Linked DNA regions of Homo sapiens: region 2 is linked to region 1. A link means that fine-mapping ties the variant in region 1 to the expression of a gene that starts in the linked region. Tissue or cell type: blood mononuclear cells. Region 1 holds a variant in brackets; the other region holds the start of a gene. All regions are shown on one strand. Distances are between the middles of the regions.

What was found. PIP is the estimated chance that this variant, and not a neighbour inherited with it, causes the effect.
Region 2: it holds the start of SLC5A9, and the variant in region 1 is fine-mapped to the expression of SLC5A9 in blood mononuclear cells (TOPMed, PIP 0.95).

What each region holds. Positions count from the first base shown.
Region 1 is chr1:48,165,828-48,174,031 of GRCh38, forward strand. The region is part of intron 12 of LINC02794 (long intergenic non-protein coding RNA 2794); the gene reads left to right. It also overlaps the pseudogene SKINT1L. Among named protein-coding and RNA genes, the nearest start is that of SLC5A9, 53 kb to the right of the region's middle. The variant A/G (reference allele first, on the strand shown) is at 3,664.
Region 2 is chr1:48,219,303-48,227,443 of GRCh38, forward strand. It overlaps SLC5A9 (solute carrier family 5 member 9), which reads left to right and starts at 3,414. Exons shown (of 14, transcript NM_001011547.3): 1 at 3,414-3,596; 2 at 5,422-5,493. The coding sequence starts at 3,435.

The sequences.
Region 1 (8,204 bases):
CATATTTGTGAAGACCTTAGTTTGCTTCAAGTCCTCCATCTCCCCTCCATTTCTCTGCCGTTCAGACTACTTCAAGGGTGAGTATTCACCTTTCATTCAGAATACTTCAAGGGTGATTGGCTTAAATGCTACGTATTTGCAAATAGCACCCATATAGTATATAGACTGTAGAATTTTGAAGATAGTAGGTGAAGGCTTTCTGAAATACATTTAGAAAGGTGAATCTGTAACTAAGTAGTCAGTAATTTGATTCAGGGAGAAATGAGAATAAAAATTATCATTAAAGAGTCTATTGTAAAGATTCAGGTACTTTTAAAAGTCAAGTTTTACTAAAGTGTTGCCAGAAATAATTAGAAGGATTGTAACAAATTCTAAAAGGATTCTGTTAATTTTTTAGCAATCTAGCAATATATGTAGACGTAAAAAAGCAGACAGTATTTACTGATAGTTTTGATGTCTGAACAGATATAATTCTCATTCTTGATCCTCCACTCTTTCCAAATCAAACTCTAAACTCATAAATTTGACCTTGTTAACCAGACCATATAATATAAAAATAGAAATAGTGAGAATTTTCCTAATACTCAGCCTCATACAGGTTGAGAATCTTGGATGCATAGAAAACTCACAGGGATCCATCCTTACCTGTGACCTTCACTTCTGTGATGGACTCTTCATAGACATTTCTGTCTTTGAAGAAGCAGTGGTACTGCCCGTCATCATCAGCACTGACATTAAGGATCCTGAGGGTCACTTTACCTTCTCCAATGGCTTCTTTCAGGAGCTCTGTCCGCTCCACATACTTGGAGATAGTTTCTCCATACAGGTCTTTACCATCCTTATACAGGTAAACAGGTCGTGTGTAGTGACTCTGGAACCAGCGTATTTCCATGTGTTCTGCGCTTTGTGGTGGAGACAGCTGGCAACTGAGCTCAACTTTTCCACCCAGTGGAGCCAAGATTGGCCTCTATAAGCTATTCACTATGAATTGTTCTGTGAAGGGAGACAGCAACGAAAGGATGAGAAGTGGACCAAGACAAAATTTTTATTTGAATTATTATATCACAAACACCCATAGACACACACACACACACACACACACACACACACACACACACACACTTTATTGAGAGTACATTCTTTTGTTTTCTCTTTTCCTTGAAAACACCTTTACTTTGCACTTTGCTTGAATGGAAATTCATCAAATTACTTTAAGAAATATGGGGAGGCCGAGGTGGGTGGATCACCTGAAGTCAGGGGTTCGAGACTGGCCTGACCAATATGCTCTGTCTCTACTAAAAATACAAAAAAAAATTAGCTGGGCATGGTGGTGTGCACCTGTAATCCCAGCTACTTGGGAGGCTGAGACAGGAGAATCACTAGAACCCAGGAGGCGGAGGTTGCAGTGAGCTGAGATCACGCCACTGCACTCCAGCCTGGAAGACAGAGCGAGACTCCATCTGAAAACAAAAAAAAAGAAAGAAAGAAATATAAAAAATGGTTTCCATTGTTGCTGTATGGTTTTCATTTCTGTTAAAATAAAGAAAAAGTACTACTACCAGTATAACAATTGCCCCTCTTCATTCTTTTTTTTCACCCTAGTTAAAACAACATTATTATTATTATTATACTTTAAGTTCTAGGATACATGTGTAGAATGTGCAGGTTTGTTACATAGGTATACACGTGCCATGGTGGTTTGCTGCACCCATCAACCCATCATCTACATTAGGTATTTCTCCTAATGGTATCCCTCCCCTGTCCCCCCACCACCCGACAGGCCCTGGTGTGTGATGTTCCCCTCCCTGTGCCCACGTGCCCTCATTGTTCAACTCTCGCTTATGAATGAGAACATGCAGTGTTTGGTTTCTGTTCCTGTGTTAGTTTGCTGAGAATGGTGGTTTCCAGCTTCATCCATGTCCCTGCAAAGGACATGAACACATCTTTTTTATGACTGCATAGTATTCCATGGTGTTTATGAGCCACATTTTCTTTAACCAGTCTATCATTGATGAGCATTTGACTTGGTTCAAAGTCTTTGCTAATGTGAACAGTGCTGCAATAAACACACGTGTGCATGTGTCTTTGTAGTAGAATGATTTATAATCCTTTTGGTATATACCCAGTAAACGCATTCCTATTTCTCCACAACCTCACCAGCATCTGTTGTTTTCTGATTTTTTAATGATCACCATTCTAGCTGGCATAAGATGGTATCTCATTGTGGTTTTGATTTGCATTTCTCTAATGACCAGTGATAATGAGCTTTTTTTCATATGTGTGTTGGCCACATAAATGTCTTCTTTTGAGAAACATCTGTTCATATCTTTTCCCCACTTTTTGATGGGGTTGTTTGTTCTTTTCTTGTAAATTTGTTTAAGTTCCTTGTAGATTCTGGATATTAGCCCTTTGTCAGATGCACATATTGCAAAAATGTTCTCCCATTCTGTAGGTTGCCTGTTCACTTGGATGATAGTTTCTTTTGCTGTGCAGAAGCTCTTTAGTTTAATTAGATCCCATTTGTCAATTTTGGCTTTTGTTGCCATTGCTTTTGGTGTTTTAGTCATGAAGTCTTTGCCCGTGCCTATGTCCTGAATGGTATTGCCTAGGTTTTCTTCTGGGGTTTTCATGGTTTTAGGTCTTACATTTAAGTTTTTAATCCATCTTGAGTTAATTTTTGTGTAAGGTATAAGGAAGGGGTCCAGTTTCAGTGTTCTGTATATGGCTAGCCAGTTTTCCCAACACCATTTATTAAATAGGGGATCCTTTCCCTATTGCATGTTTTTGTCAGGTTTGCCAAAGATCAGATGGTTGTAGATGTGTGGAGTTATTTCTGAGGCCTGTGTTCTGTTCCATTGGTCAATATATCTGTTTGGTTATCAGTACCATGCTGTTTGGGTTACTGTAGCCTTGTAGTGTAGTTTGAAGTCAGGTTGAATGATGCCTCCAGGTTTGTTCTTTTTGCTTAGGATTGCCTTGGCTACATAGGCTCTTTTTTGGTTCCATATGAAATTTAAAGTAGTTTTTTCTAATTCTGTGAAGAAAGTCAGTGGTAGCTTGATGGGGATAGCATTGAATCTATAAATTACTTTAAGCAGTATGGCCATTTTCATGATGTTGATTCTTCCTATCCATGAGCATGGAATGTTTTTCCATTTGTTTTTGTCCTCTCTGAATTCCTTGAGCAGTGGTTTGTAGTTCTCCTTGAAGAGGCCCTTCACATCCCTTGTAAGTTGTATTTCTAGGTATTTGATTCTCTTTGTAGCAATTGTCAATGGGAGTTCACTCATTATTTGGCTCTCTGTTTGTCTATTATTGGTGTATGGGAATGCTTGTAATTTTTGCACACTGATTTTGCATCCTGAGACATTGCTGAATTTGCTTATCAGCTTAAGGAGTTTTTGGGCCGAGACCATGGGGTTTTCTAAATATACAATCGTGTCATTGGCAAACAGAGACAATTTGACTTCTTCTCTTCCTATGTGAACATGCTTTATTTCTTTCTGTTGCCTGATTGCCCTGGCCAGAACTTTCAATACTATGTTGAATAGGAGTGGTGAGAGAGGGCATCCTTGTCTCGCACCGATTTTCTATGGGAATGCTTCCAGCTTTTGCCCATTCAGTATGATGTTGGCTGTGGGTTTGTCATAAATAGCTCTTATT[A/G]TTTTGAGATACATTCCATCAATACCTAGTTTATTGAGAGTTTTTAGCATGAAGGAATGTTGAATTTTATTGAGGCCTTTTCTGCATCTATTGAGATAATCATGTGGTTTTTGTCATTGGTTCTGTTTATGTGATGGATTAGGTTTATTGATTTGTATATGTTGAACCAGCCTTGCTTCTCAGGGATGGAGCCAACTTGATCATGGTGGATAAGCTTTTTGATGTGCTGCTGGATTCATTTTGCCAGTATTTTATTGAGAATTTTCACATTGATGTTCATCAGGGATATTGGCCTGAAATTTTCTTTTTTGTTGTTGTTGTGTCTTTGCCAGGTTTTGGAATCAGGATGACGCTGCCCTCATAAAATTAGTCAGGGAAGACTCCCTCTTTTTCTATTGTTTGAAATAATTTCAGAAGGAATGCTACCAGCTCCTCTTTTTACTTCTGGTAGAATTTGGCTGTGAATCCATCTGGTCCTGGGCTTTTGTTGGTTGGTAGGCTATGAATTACTGCCTCAATTTCTGAACTTGTTATTGGTCTATTCAGGGATTCGACTTCTTCCTGGTTTAGTCTAAGGAGGGTGTATGTGTCCAGAAATTTATCCATTTCTTCTAGATTTTCTGGTTTATTTGCATAGAGGTGTTTATAGTATTCTGACGGTAGTTTGTATTTCTGTGGGATCAGTGGTGATAGCCACTTTATCATTTTTTGTTGTGTCTATTTGATTCTTCTCTTTTTTCTTCATTAGTCTGGCTAGGCATTTATCTCTTTTGTTAATTTTTTTCAAAAAACTAGCTTCTGGATTCATTGATTTTTGGAAGGGCTTTTTGTGTCTTCTTCACTTCTGCCCTGATCTTAGTTATTTATTTTCTTCTGCTTGCTTTTGAATTTGTTTTCTCTTGCTTCTCTAGTTCTTTTAATTGTGGTGTTAGGGTATCTTTCCCACTTTCTCCTGTGGGCATTTAGTGCTATAAATTTCCCTCTAAACACTGCTTTAGCTGTGCCCCAGAGATTCTGGTACATTATGTCTTTGTACTCATCGGTTTCAAAGAACTTACTTATTTCTGCCTTAATTTTGTTATTTGTCCAGTAGTCATTCAGGAGCAGATTGTTCAGTTTCCATGTAGTTGTGCAGTTTTCAGTGAGTTTCTTTATCCTGAGTTCTAATTTGATTGCACTGTTGTCTGACAGATTGTTTGTTATCATTTCCATTCTTTTGCTTTTGCTGAGGAGTGCTTTACCTCCAATTATGTGGTCGATTTTAGAATAAATGTGATGTGGTGCTGAGAAGAATGTATATTCTGTTAATTTGGGATGGAGAGTTCTGTAGATGTCTATTAGGTCCATTTTGTCCAGAGCTGAGTTCAAGACCTGAATATCTTGTTAATTTTATGTCTCGTTGATATGTCTAATATTGACAGTGGGGTGTTAAAGTCTCCCATTATCATTAAGTCAAAGTCTACATCTCTTTGTAGTTCTCTAAGAACTTGCTTTATGAATCTGGGTGCTCCTGTTTTGGGTGCATATATATTTAGGATATTTGGCTTTTCTTGTTGCATTGATCCCTTTACCATTATGTAATGCCCTTCTTTGTCTTTTTTGATCTTTGTTGGTTTAAAGTCTGTTTTATCAGAGACTAAGATTGCACCCCTGCTTTTTTTGCTTTCCATTTGCTTGGTAAATATTCCTCCATCCCTTTATTTTGAGTCTATGTATGTCTTTGCACATGAGATGGGTCTCCTGAATACAGCACAATGAGGGTCTTGACTCTTTATCCAATTTGCCAGTCTGTGTCTTTTAACTGGGGCATTTAGCCCATTTACATTTAAGGTTAATATTGTTATGTGTGAATTTGATCCTGTCATTATGATGCTAACTGGTTACTTTGCCCATTAGTTGATGCAGTTTCTTCATAGTGTTGATGGTCTTTACAATTTGGTATGTTTTTGCAGTGGCTGGTACCAGTTTTTCCTTTCCATATTTAGTGCTTCCTTCAGGAGTTCTTGTAAGGCAGGCCTGGTGGTGACAAAATCTCTCAGCATTTGCTTGTCTGTAAAGGATTTTATTTCTCATTCACTTACGAAGCTTAGTTTGGCTGGATATGAAACTGGATATGAAATTCTGGGTTGAAGATTCTTTTCTTTAAGAATGTTGAATATTGGCCCACACTCTCTTCTAGCTTGTAGGGTTTCTGCACGGACATCCACTATTGGTCTGATGGGCTTCCCTTTGTGGGTAACCCGACCTTTCTCTCTGGCTGCACTTAACATTTTTTCCTTCATTTCAACCTTGGTGAATCTGACAATTACGTGTCTTGGGTTGTTCTTCTCGAGGAGTATCTTTGTGGTGTTCTCTGTATTTCCTGAATTTGAATGTTGGCCTGTCTTGCTAGGTTGGGATAATATCCTGAAGAGTGTTTTCCAACTTGGTTCCATTTTCCCCTTCACTTTCAGGTACACCAATCAAACATAGGTTTGTTCTTTTCACATAGTCCCATATTTCTTGGCAGCTTTGTTCATTCCTTTTCATTCTTTTGTCTCTAATCTTGTCTTCATGCTTTATTTCATTAAGTTGATCTTCAGTCTCTGATATAATTTCTTCCTCTTGATCGATTCGGCTATTAATACTTGTGTATGCTTCACAAAATTCTCGTGCTGTGTTTTTCAGCTCCATTAGGTCATTTCTGTTCTTCTCTAAACTGGCTATTCTATTTAGCAATTCCTTTAACTTTTTTTAAAGGTTGTGAGCTTCCTTGCATTGGGTTGGAACATGCTCCATTAGCTCGGAGGAGTTTGTTATTAAGAGGTTTTCTGGTTTTCGGAATTTTCAGCCTTTTTGCCCTGTTTTTTCCTTATCTTCATGGATTTATCTACCTTTGGTTTTGATATTGCTGACCTTCAGTTGGGGTTTTGGTGAGGAAGTCCTTTTTGTTGATGCTGATGCTATTCCTTTCTGTTTATTAGTTTTCCTTCTAACACTCAGGCCCCTCTGCTGCAGGTCTGCTGGAGTTTGCTGTCGGTCCACTCCAGACCCTGTTTGCCTGGATATCACCAGCAGAAGCTACAGAACAGCCAAGATTGCTGCCCTTTCCTTCCTCTGGAAGCTTTGTCTCACATGGGCACCCACCAGATGCCAGCCAGAGCTCTCCCATATGAGGTGTCTGTCAACCCCTTCTGGGAGGTGTCTCCCCATCAGGAGGCACAGGGGTCAGGTACCCACTTGAGGAGGCAATCTGTCCCTTAGCAGAGCTCAAGTGCTGTGCTTGGAGATCCACTTCTCTCCTCAGAGCCAGCAGTCAGGAATGTTTAAGTCTGCTGAAGCTGTGCCCACAGCCAACCTTCCCCCAGGTGCTCTGTTCCAGGGAGATGAGAGTTTTATCTATAAGCCCCTGACAGGGGCTGCTGCCTTTCTTTCAGAGATGTCCTGCCCAGAGAAGAAGAATCTAGAGAAGCAGTCTGGCTACAGCGGCTTTGTGGAGCTGCAGTGGGCTCTGCCCAGTTTGAAATTTCAGGCCGCTTTCTTTATACTGTGAGGGGAAAACCGTCTACTCAAGCCTCAGTAATGGTGGATGCCCTTCTCTGCACCAAGCTCGAGCATCCCAGGATGACTTCCGACTGCTGTGCTGGCAGCGAGAATTTCAAGCCAGTGGATCTTAGCTTGCTGGGCTCCATGGAGATGGGATCCACTGAGCTAGACCACTTGGCTCCCTGGCATCAGCCCCATTTCCAGGCAAGTGAATGGTTCTCTCTCCCTGGCATTCCAGGTGCCACTGGGTTATGAACAAAAACTCCTGCAGCTAGCTTGGTGTCTGCCCAAACAGCCGCCCAGTTTTGTGCTTGAAACCCAGGGCCCTGGTGGCGTAGGCACCTGAGGGAATCTCCTGGTCTATGGGTTGTGAAGACCATGGTAAAAAGGTAGTATCTCGGCTGGAAAGCACCGCTTCTCATGGCACAGTCCCTCATGGCTTCCCTTGGCTAGGGGAGGGAGTTCCCCAACCCCTTGCACTTCCCGGGTGAGGTGATGCCCCACCCTGCTTCAGCTTGCCCTCTGTGCACCCTCTGTCTAACCAGTCTCAATGACATGAGCTGGGTACCTCAGTTAGAAATGCAGAAATCACCTACCTTCTGCAATGATTTTGATGGGAGGTGCAGACGAGCTGTTCCTATTCAGTCATCTTGCCAGCCACACATGCCCATCTTCATTCCATTATTTCATTTACTCTAAACATACTTTCAGGCAGTTCTTAAAATTTACTCCATTTTAACTATAATGAATCCATGTATGAATGCATTTGTCTTTTTCTGGCTCTTTCATAGTGCTTCTTGAATTGGATGATTCTTGTCTTTTTTAAATTCTGGAAAATTCTCACACATTCTATGTTTAGTTTGACCTCCTTATTCTTCACAGTCTGTTATTATGGAAGTACTATGCTTAACACGTTGCGTCTCTCTGTTTTCTTCGATGTTACCAACAAGATGTCTTAAACTATCACCACCTGCCCCTACAAATGTACACAGGTTAGGATGTTTCATTTATCGTTT
Region 2 (8,141 bases), 53 kb after region 1:
TTTATTTCTGGGCTCTCTGTTCTATTCCATTGGTTTATATGATTGTCTTTATGCCACTACCACACTGCTTTCACTACTGTAGCTTTGTAGTGAGTTTTGAAATCAGGATGCATGAAACCTCCAACTTTGTTCTTCTTATGTGTAGTATGTCTTTGTGCCTCAGTGGCAACTTCCATTTATTGGCCTGTTATATTTCTATACTTTTTTATGCATGGCTGAAACCATTCCCCTTCCCATAAAGCTTTCTCAGTCTCTCCAACAAAGGACTTCATTGATCCTTCCTCTGGGCTATCCAGCTAAAAGGAAGAAAGGGGTGGACAAAAGTGACCTATTTTGTGTCAAAAGCACCTGTCTTTTGACTGTCTGTATTCCCCACAAGGCATGAACAACTAAAGACATGTGTGCTCCCTGAACAGGGTCAGGGATAGGACAGGCCTCACTTCATGTAGGACTGACAGCATGAGGACATCCTTCACTCTCGGAAGCTCTCTGAGAGAATATTCTGGATAATTGAGGCCTCAGCTTTGAATGCCAACACCTGCCTAAAATGTTTGACCATTTTGCATGAAACTCTTCCTGCCTGGGTTTCATACTCCATGCCTTCTAAATAGAAAACTCATAATGACCACAGTCACCTTTCCTTGATGACTCTGGGTCATCCGTATGTGTGTGAATCTTGGCTGCTACTCAAGAATGCCCTTTGTTGAGAGTTGATCTACCCAGTTTTATAGGTCTGTTTGCCCCGATTTAGTCATCTTTTACATTGTCTTTCCTGGTCTTTCCAGGTTTAATGACCTCTCATGCACCATCAACCCATCAGCTGCCATTCTCCTTGCTGTCCCTGTGTAGCTTTGCCCCCTCTCTTCTAATTTGTTGTGAGTTGGGATATGAATAACAAGACTCTGGCTAAAACAAAAATAAACAGTCTCTGAGTGGGGTCACAAGGCTCACTGATAAGTCAAAGATTTAGGTTTTGGGCATGAGTTTTAGAATGTCTATTCTGGCTGTTTCAAAGCCTTTTTTGCTCCCTTCCTCATGCTCTGTTGGTCTCTGGGCTGCTAATGTGCCTGGTTAGCTTACAGATAAGTCTTAGATGCATTCGAGGAGAGGCTACTATAAACCCAAACCTGCTAGTTTTGGATTAGGTAAGTGTGCAGGGTTTGGGGGTCAGCCTCATGTATCTGTGAGGTAGATGGGAAGACAGAGCATGCAGGCAGCAGAACACTGTCCTAGTCCATCCCTACTGCTACAGCAAAACACCTAAGACCAGGTAATTTATAAAGTACAGGAATTTATTTCTCACAATTCTGGAGGCTGGAAGTCCAAGATCAAAGCCCCAGCAGGTTTGGTGTCTGGTGAGGGCCCAGTCTATGCCTCCAAGACGGCACCTTGTGGCTGTGTCCTCACATGGCAGAAGGTAAAAAGGCAAAAGGGCCTGGCTAGTTCCCTTAGCCCTTTTATAAGGTACTGATCCCACCCATGAGGGAGAAGCCCTCACGGGCTAATCACTCCTAAAGGCCCTACCTCTTAGTACTGTTGCATTGGGGATTCAGTTTCAACATGAATTTTGGAAGCAACACAAGCATCCAAACTATAGCAAACCCCAAGGGCTGGGTGAGGGGGCTCCTTGTGGGGAGCATAGAAAGAAGTACAAGACTCAGCTGTCTTCTCCCTGCGACATTCCTTTTCCCATCTCTGGAAGAGTCATCCGGATCCAGAGCCCTCACTATGGTGTGCTCAGAGGCCTAAGCTCAGACCACTCCTTCCCTGCTCCCTGATTAACACCCAGAGATCTGCCAGCCTCATTCCCCACTGTCCCTGTATCCAGCTCACCCCCAGGGACCACTGGGCACCTGGTCCATCACATTTTCCTGATGTTTCTAATGCTGCCCCTCCTGCATCCCTGTTCGTCTGATAAACTTGCCTTTAAACGTGTATATGAAGGACTCTTCCTCTGGTATCTAATCCTAACAGGTGCTAGATCCCACAGAGCCCTGTCCAGCTGGGGACTATGCTGACCTCTCTCCCAGATCAATATCCCTCTCCTCGGGGCTCAGCCTGGCCAGTGCCTGATGTTCTGGGATAGGAGAACTGGGGAGAGAAGGCCTAGGACCCTGCCTCTCACTTTTCTTTCCACCAAAAGGGGAAAAAAGAGGATCTGGTCCTCACACCCAGCCTTGGGATACTTATAAGATGCTGGGGATAGGGTGTGGGACAGGGCCAGTGAGAGCTGGGGATGGGGTGTGGGACAGGGCCAGTGAGATCTGTTTTCCTGCTGCTCCAGTCTGGGCCCTACAGCAGATGCATGCAGAGTAATATTTGTAAGACTGAAATATTCCAAATGCAGCTACTTTGGAAGGACCATGTGAGCAGATATCTAAGTGCGTGGCATCTGGGCCCCTTGGCTAGATGGTGGTCGATGTTGGTTTCTTTGTGTTAACCCCAAGAACATTCAGTAGCTCAGGGTTTGCAGAGGTTCTCAGGAGCACATCTTAGCCTCATTGGTGGTGTGAGGCAGGCAGGGCACAGGTCACACTGATGAGGACACCCGGGCCCAGAGACATTTAGCAACCTGCCCAAGGGCATCTGTAGTTCAGTGAGAGGTGGAGCTGGGACTGAAATCTAGGCTGCCTGAGTCCCAGAGATGGTCTTCCCTGGACCCAGGGAGCACTGTATCTTTTTCAGGGAAGGCCTCCTGACCACAACCATTTCATCTGTCACAGTACAGAATAGGAAGTATGGGTCAGGCATCAGAAGATGTGAATTCTGGCTCTGCCTTTTCAGAGATGGCCCTGCCTAGTTCCTTGGAATAAATGATGATGTCTTCCCCAGCCTCAGTTTCCTACACTATATAAAAAGAGAAAGCAACATCTAGGTAGGTTGGAATGGGAGTACATGAGGTGGTGGCCACTTTGCTAGGGTCACAGTAGACTCCTCACCTCCTTCCCCTTGTCTTCCTCTCACTAGGTAAAAGACAATTGTATTGAACTCTTAAGAAAATTGGACTCCAGTCCCGGCTCCACCTTTACTTCCCTGGGCCTTGGTTTTCCCACCACACAGGAGTTTGAACACTTTGATTTCTGAAGTCCTTCCCACCTCTGGGGTTCCAATATTCTGCTCCTTTTCTCCTCTTCCTCCTCCCCCTCCTTTCTCCTCCTGCTCATCTGGGGTTAGGGAGATTGCGTGTATGTGTGTGCCTGTGTGTACACATGCATGTATGTGTGTGCACGTAGTGGCAGCAAGGAAGAGGAAGGAAGGAGTCCTGCAGGGGTTGGTGGTGGCAGTTGGGAGAAAAGGAGGCAGGACTGTATGTGCCAGCAGGGCTCAGAGTTTTCTCACCAACTAATGGTGCTTGGGGCAGTTTAATCATTAAAGGAAAGGAATGAAGCCAGGAGCGCCTCAAAGTCCAGCCTGCTGTTGACCAACACTAACAGATGAGCAAGGAGCTGGCAGCAATGGGGCCTGGAGCTTCAGGGGACGGGGTCAGGACTGAGACAGCTCCACACATAGCACTGGACTCCAGAGTTGGTCTGCACGCCTACGACATCAGCGTGGTGGTCATCTACTTTGTCTTCGTCATTGCTGTGGGGATCTGGGTAAGTGGGCCCTGAGGCTGGGGCTAGCAGGGGAGGTAGTAGTGGTCTCTCAGCTTGGGTGGGGCTGTGGAGCTGGGGCAGGGCTAGGCAGAAAGAAGCAGATCATAGAACCATGTGGCTGAGAAGGAAGGGCCTTCAGGAATCAGGCTCCTGATCTCCTCATTTTTAGAAGGGCAGAGAGGGGTGTGGCTGGTCTGAGGTCACACAGAGAGTCAGAGGCAGACCAGGCCCCCGACTCCTGACTCCTCTCTGAGCACCTGCTGCCTTTGGCCCCAACCATCCCTGGTTGCCCTGAGCCTCACTCCTTCCTTCTTCCCACCCCAAGGCCCCCAACTCTGAGAACTCTTGACCCCTGGCCCTACCTCAGTCCTGCATTCGTTAGCATCTTGGCTAAGGTGATTTCTAAATGAGAAGGGGCTCATGTGCTCTCAGGGAAGTGTGCCAGGCTTATTCCAAGGTTCCTCTGTTCTCCATTGTTCCCAGGAGCCTCAGTGCTAGAGGCAGGGGCCAGGCTTTGGGGTCAGGGAAACCTGAGTTCAGGTCCCAGCTGCAACAATGAGAGCCTCATGTCCCTGGGAACATATGAGGCCTATCAGCTTTCTCAGGTGAACAATGAGAATAAGGACTATGCTGTGATCATTCAGCAACAGGACATACTGCAGCACCTGGCACGGTGCCTGGTGCCCGATCAGCAGGCAATAAATGGCTGCTATTATCACCACGCATTCCACAGAAGTGTGAGCACCTTTAGACTCTGCTGTGATTCAAGTCCCAGATGGTCACTTCCTAGGCTGTGGCCAGGTCAGAGACCCTCTCTGAGCCTCAGTTTCCTCATCTATAAAGGGGGGTGAACAGTCCCTGCCTTCTAGTGCTGGTGTGAGGAAGAATTGGGCTAACAGATGGTCACTGGCTCCTGGAAGTGGCCAGCCGAGAAAAGCACCAACTCCTCTGTGACTTTGGACAAATTGCTTCCAATGTTGGGCCTCCATTTTCACATCTGTAAAATGGATCTGTTTTGCTCGTATGGCCTCCAAGAGGATCAGAGCTGACAAGGAAAATACAAGCAAAAGCTTAACAAGCACAAGGCCCCACACATATTTATCACTCCCTCGTGACTGATTATTTTCCCTTAGGGGAAAGTCAGAGAACTGTTGGCTTTTGCATCTGAATAGCTGCTTCAAGTTCATCCTTCCCTACCCACTGCCCTGCCCTCACCCTGTATCTCCAGAGAATATTCCAACAGGCTGCTAACTGACCACCTACTGGTGTAAGACAGGGAGGTCCTGGATGGGGCTCAGTGGCGTGATCTGATTTCAACCCAGGGCAAGGGAAACTCCAAAACAGTACCCATAACTCTACTCAGGGCTCAAAGTCTCACAGTCAAACTGCAGCCCTCTCTGTCCTCCCGCCTCCAGTGTGGGAGCTCAGCTGGGAGCAGGGAGGGGATCAGCTCAGAGAAAGGGTGAGCACTACACATCTAAGGAGGTGATAACAAATCATACTCTGAAAGCGCACTTTGGGGAGGGAAGGATAAGGGGACAAGAGTGCACAATCAATGGCTTCACACACGTGACATCCGTTACCTCCTTTGCTCTTCGCACTGGCCCTGGGAGATGAATGGCGAGGCTCACAGAGAAAGTGACTCTGCCAAGATACATCGCTTAGAAACTGTGGAACCAGCCTCAGGCAGCTCTCTTCTGCCTCAGTTTTCACCCTCTGTGTCCCCACAGTGCCTGCACCGAGGGGAAGGAAATCTGCGGGGAGGGGGCAGGGCAGAGGTTCAGAGAGTCTTGAGAAATCCTCATCTCATCTATTTCCTTTCCAGTCGTCCATCCGTGCAAGTCGAGGGACCATTGGCGGCTATTTCCTGGCCGGGAGGTCCATGAGCTGGTGGCCAGTGAGTTGACCCTTCTCAACCACCCCTAGTGCAGAGGCTCCCAACTTTCTTCCTCCCCACTATCCAAGCACTTGTCCCATCTTCTCACACCTGGACCAAGGCAAAGACCTCCCCGTTGTGTTTCCTGACTCTGGGCCCCTTCTCTCCCGCCCAAACCCGCCCCGCAACCTGAGTGGTCCTGCTAGCACGCACCTTGGACAAACATCCCCTGGCCCCTCCTAGGTGTGGCCCTACATCTGGCACTTGACTTGCAGTGATGAATCTGGAATGTCCCTGTCCTAGAGAAGCTCAGAGCTGAGTGGGGCAGATAGATTCATAAACATCATGCGCACTGCTGAGCCAGAGGGAAGCAGGGGGCACTCACCAGAGCTTGGAAGCCCCTGACCACCAGACAGTGGAGTCAGCTAGGGTTAGGAAAGATTTTGGGGGGAAGGTGACACATAAGCTTAATATTGAAGAACAGTTAAGTTAAGGGAATCACAGAGGTAAAATCCCCAGCAATCTCAGGGAATCGATCCCCAAAACTTTGTGAGCCACAGTTTCTCCCATCAAGCCACACCACATTTCTAAGTTAGGGGAATCACAGAGGTAAAATCCCCAAAAACCTCAGGGAATCGATCCCCAAACCTTCGTGAGCCACAATTTCTCCCATCAAGCCACCTCACATTTCTATTGGTCCTCAAAATTAACTTCCTCCTCCTGGAATGGGATGGAGGGAGGAAAGCCCTGCCTCAAAAATTACCAGTAGAGTCATCAGCCCCAGTGGTAGCTGAAGCAGTATACACACCCAGGCATGCAAAACTCACACACGGCATGTGTGCATACCCACTCCCACATGCACACTCTCACACACTGACACACAACACTCACACTCACATACAAAGGCACCCACACATGTTCATACATGCCCGCACTCATACATGCTTGCAAACTCATGCACACAATCATACTCCTATTCTCACACTCACACCTTCTCTCACGCACTCACACTCTCACTCTCATACACACTGTCACAATCACATACACTCACATGCAGTCTCACACTCATGCTCCTTTACATACTTACACGTGCACACTCAGACTCACACATTCATGCGCACTCACACCACCAGCCATCTTCACGCCTCTCCCCACCCTTCTCCTTCTCACCACCTTCCCCACTCTCTAGTGGTCACAGACTCATTAAAGAGTAGCAGAAACACAGGAGGCCTCCAGGGCTCTCTGGAAGGTTTAGGTATCTGGGACAGGAAGAAGTAGGAGCAGGGAGCTCTTGTCTGTCCAGCATGACAGAATCCCCAGGGATGGCGGGGAGCTGGGCCTTGCAGCTCAGGAACAGTGGCGGGGTCACTGGTGCTACAGCCACCTTCTCATCAGGAAAAAGGAAAAACCCTTCAAAATGGTTCTTTTCAGCTAGTGCCCCCCAAATCACAGCCCTGGAAATGAAGGAAAGGAGGAGAAAGAAGCAGGACAGAGCAGGTTCCTCTGACCACTTCAGGAGAAGCCCAGGGGCCCTGCTGATTGTCTGGTCAACCCACAGAGAGCCGAGCTCTGGCCCAACGATTAGTGTGAGGAACCTGAGGCCTCCAAACAAGAGGGAGGCCTTGGCAGGCACTCCCAGGTTCCCACTGCGCCCCAAACACAGAGCAGGCACCCAGTGGGAAAGAGAGGATGTGCTCCCCATCCTCTGGTGGGCCAGGCTGTGAGCTGTGCCTCCTGCACCTGAGACCTGGGTCCTGCCTGAGGCCAGAGTAAGAACCAGCTCTGGGTAGGGAAAGCTCAGTCCCACCAGCACTGCTGGAGTGTTTGTCTGGGCATCTGCCCTGCCCTGAGTCTGTGCCCCATGAACAGTGTGGGGCTTGGGAGGCTGAGAGCAGAAGGTGCAGTCGCCCGTCCTCTTCCAGAGAGGTCTGCATGGTCCTCCTCCCCATGCCTCCCCTGCTGATCTTGTTGATGTCTCCTGGGTTAGGAGCAGGAGAAGTGAGGTTAAAAACCCTGGGCTGGGTTGGGGTGGAGGTGCCTCACTGCTCCAAGAACTGCCTGGGGGAGGCTTCTTCCCCTGAAGTAGGAGGCCTTGGTGTTCTTTGCTCTGACTGGGTGGTTCAGCCCAGCCCTACCAGCACCCTGGGACCGCCTGAGAGAGGAAGAGTGAGTGTGTGTGTGAGTGCCTGTGTGAATTTGTTTCCATGTGTGAGTATGTATGCATGTGTGAATGTGGGCACTGTGTGTGTGCATGAGTGTGCTTGTGTGTGTGTGCTTTGCGAATGTATGTGCACGTGTGTGCATACCTGTGCGTGTGAGGGCATATGAGGACATGTGCATGTGTGTGAGTGTATGTGTGCGACGGTGCAAGTGCATGAGTGTGTGTGTCAGAGTGTGTGTGCGTGTGTGTGTGTACTGTGCCTGTGTGTGAGTGCATGTGTGTGTGCATGTGTGAGTGTGTGTGTACTGTGCCTGTGTGTGAGTGCATGTGTGTCAGAGTGTGTGTGTGTATGTGTGAGAGTGTGTGTGTACTGTGCCTGTGTGGGCGTGAGTGCATGTGTGTGTCAGAGTGTGTGTGTACTGTGCCTGTGTGTGATTGCATGTGTGAGAGTGTGTGTGTACTGTGCCTGTGTGGGCGTGAGTGCATGTGTGTCAGAGTGTGTGTGTGT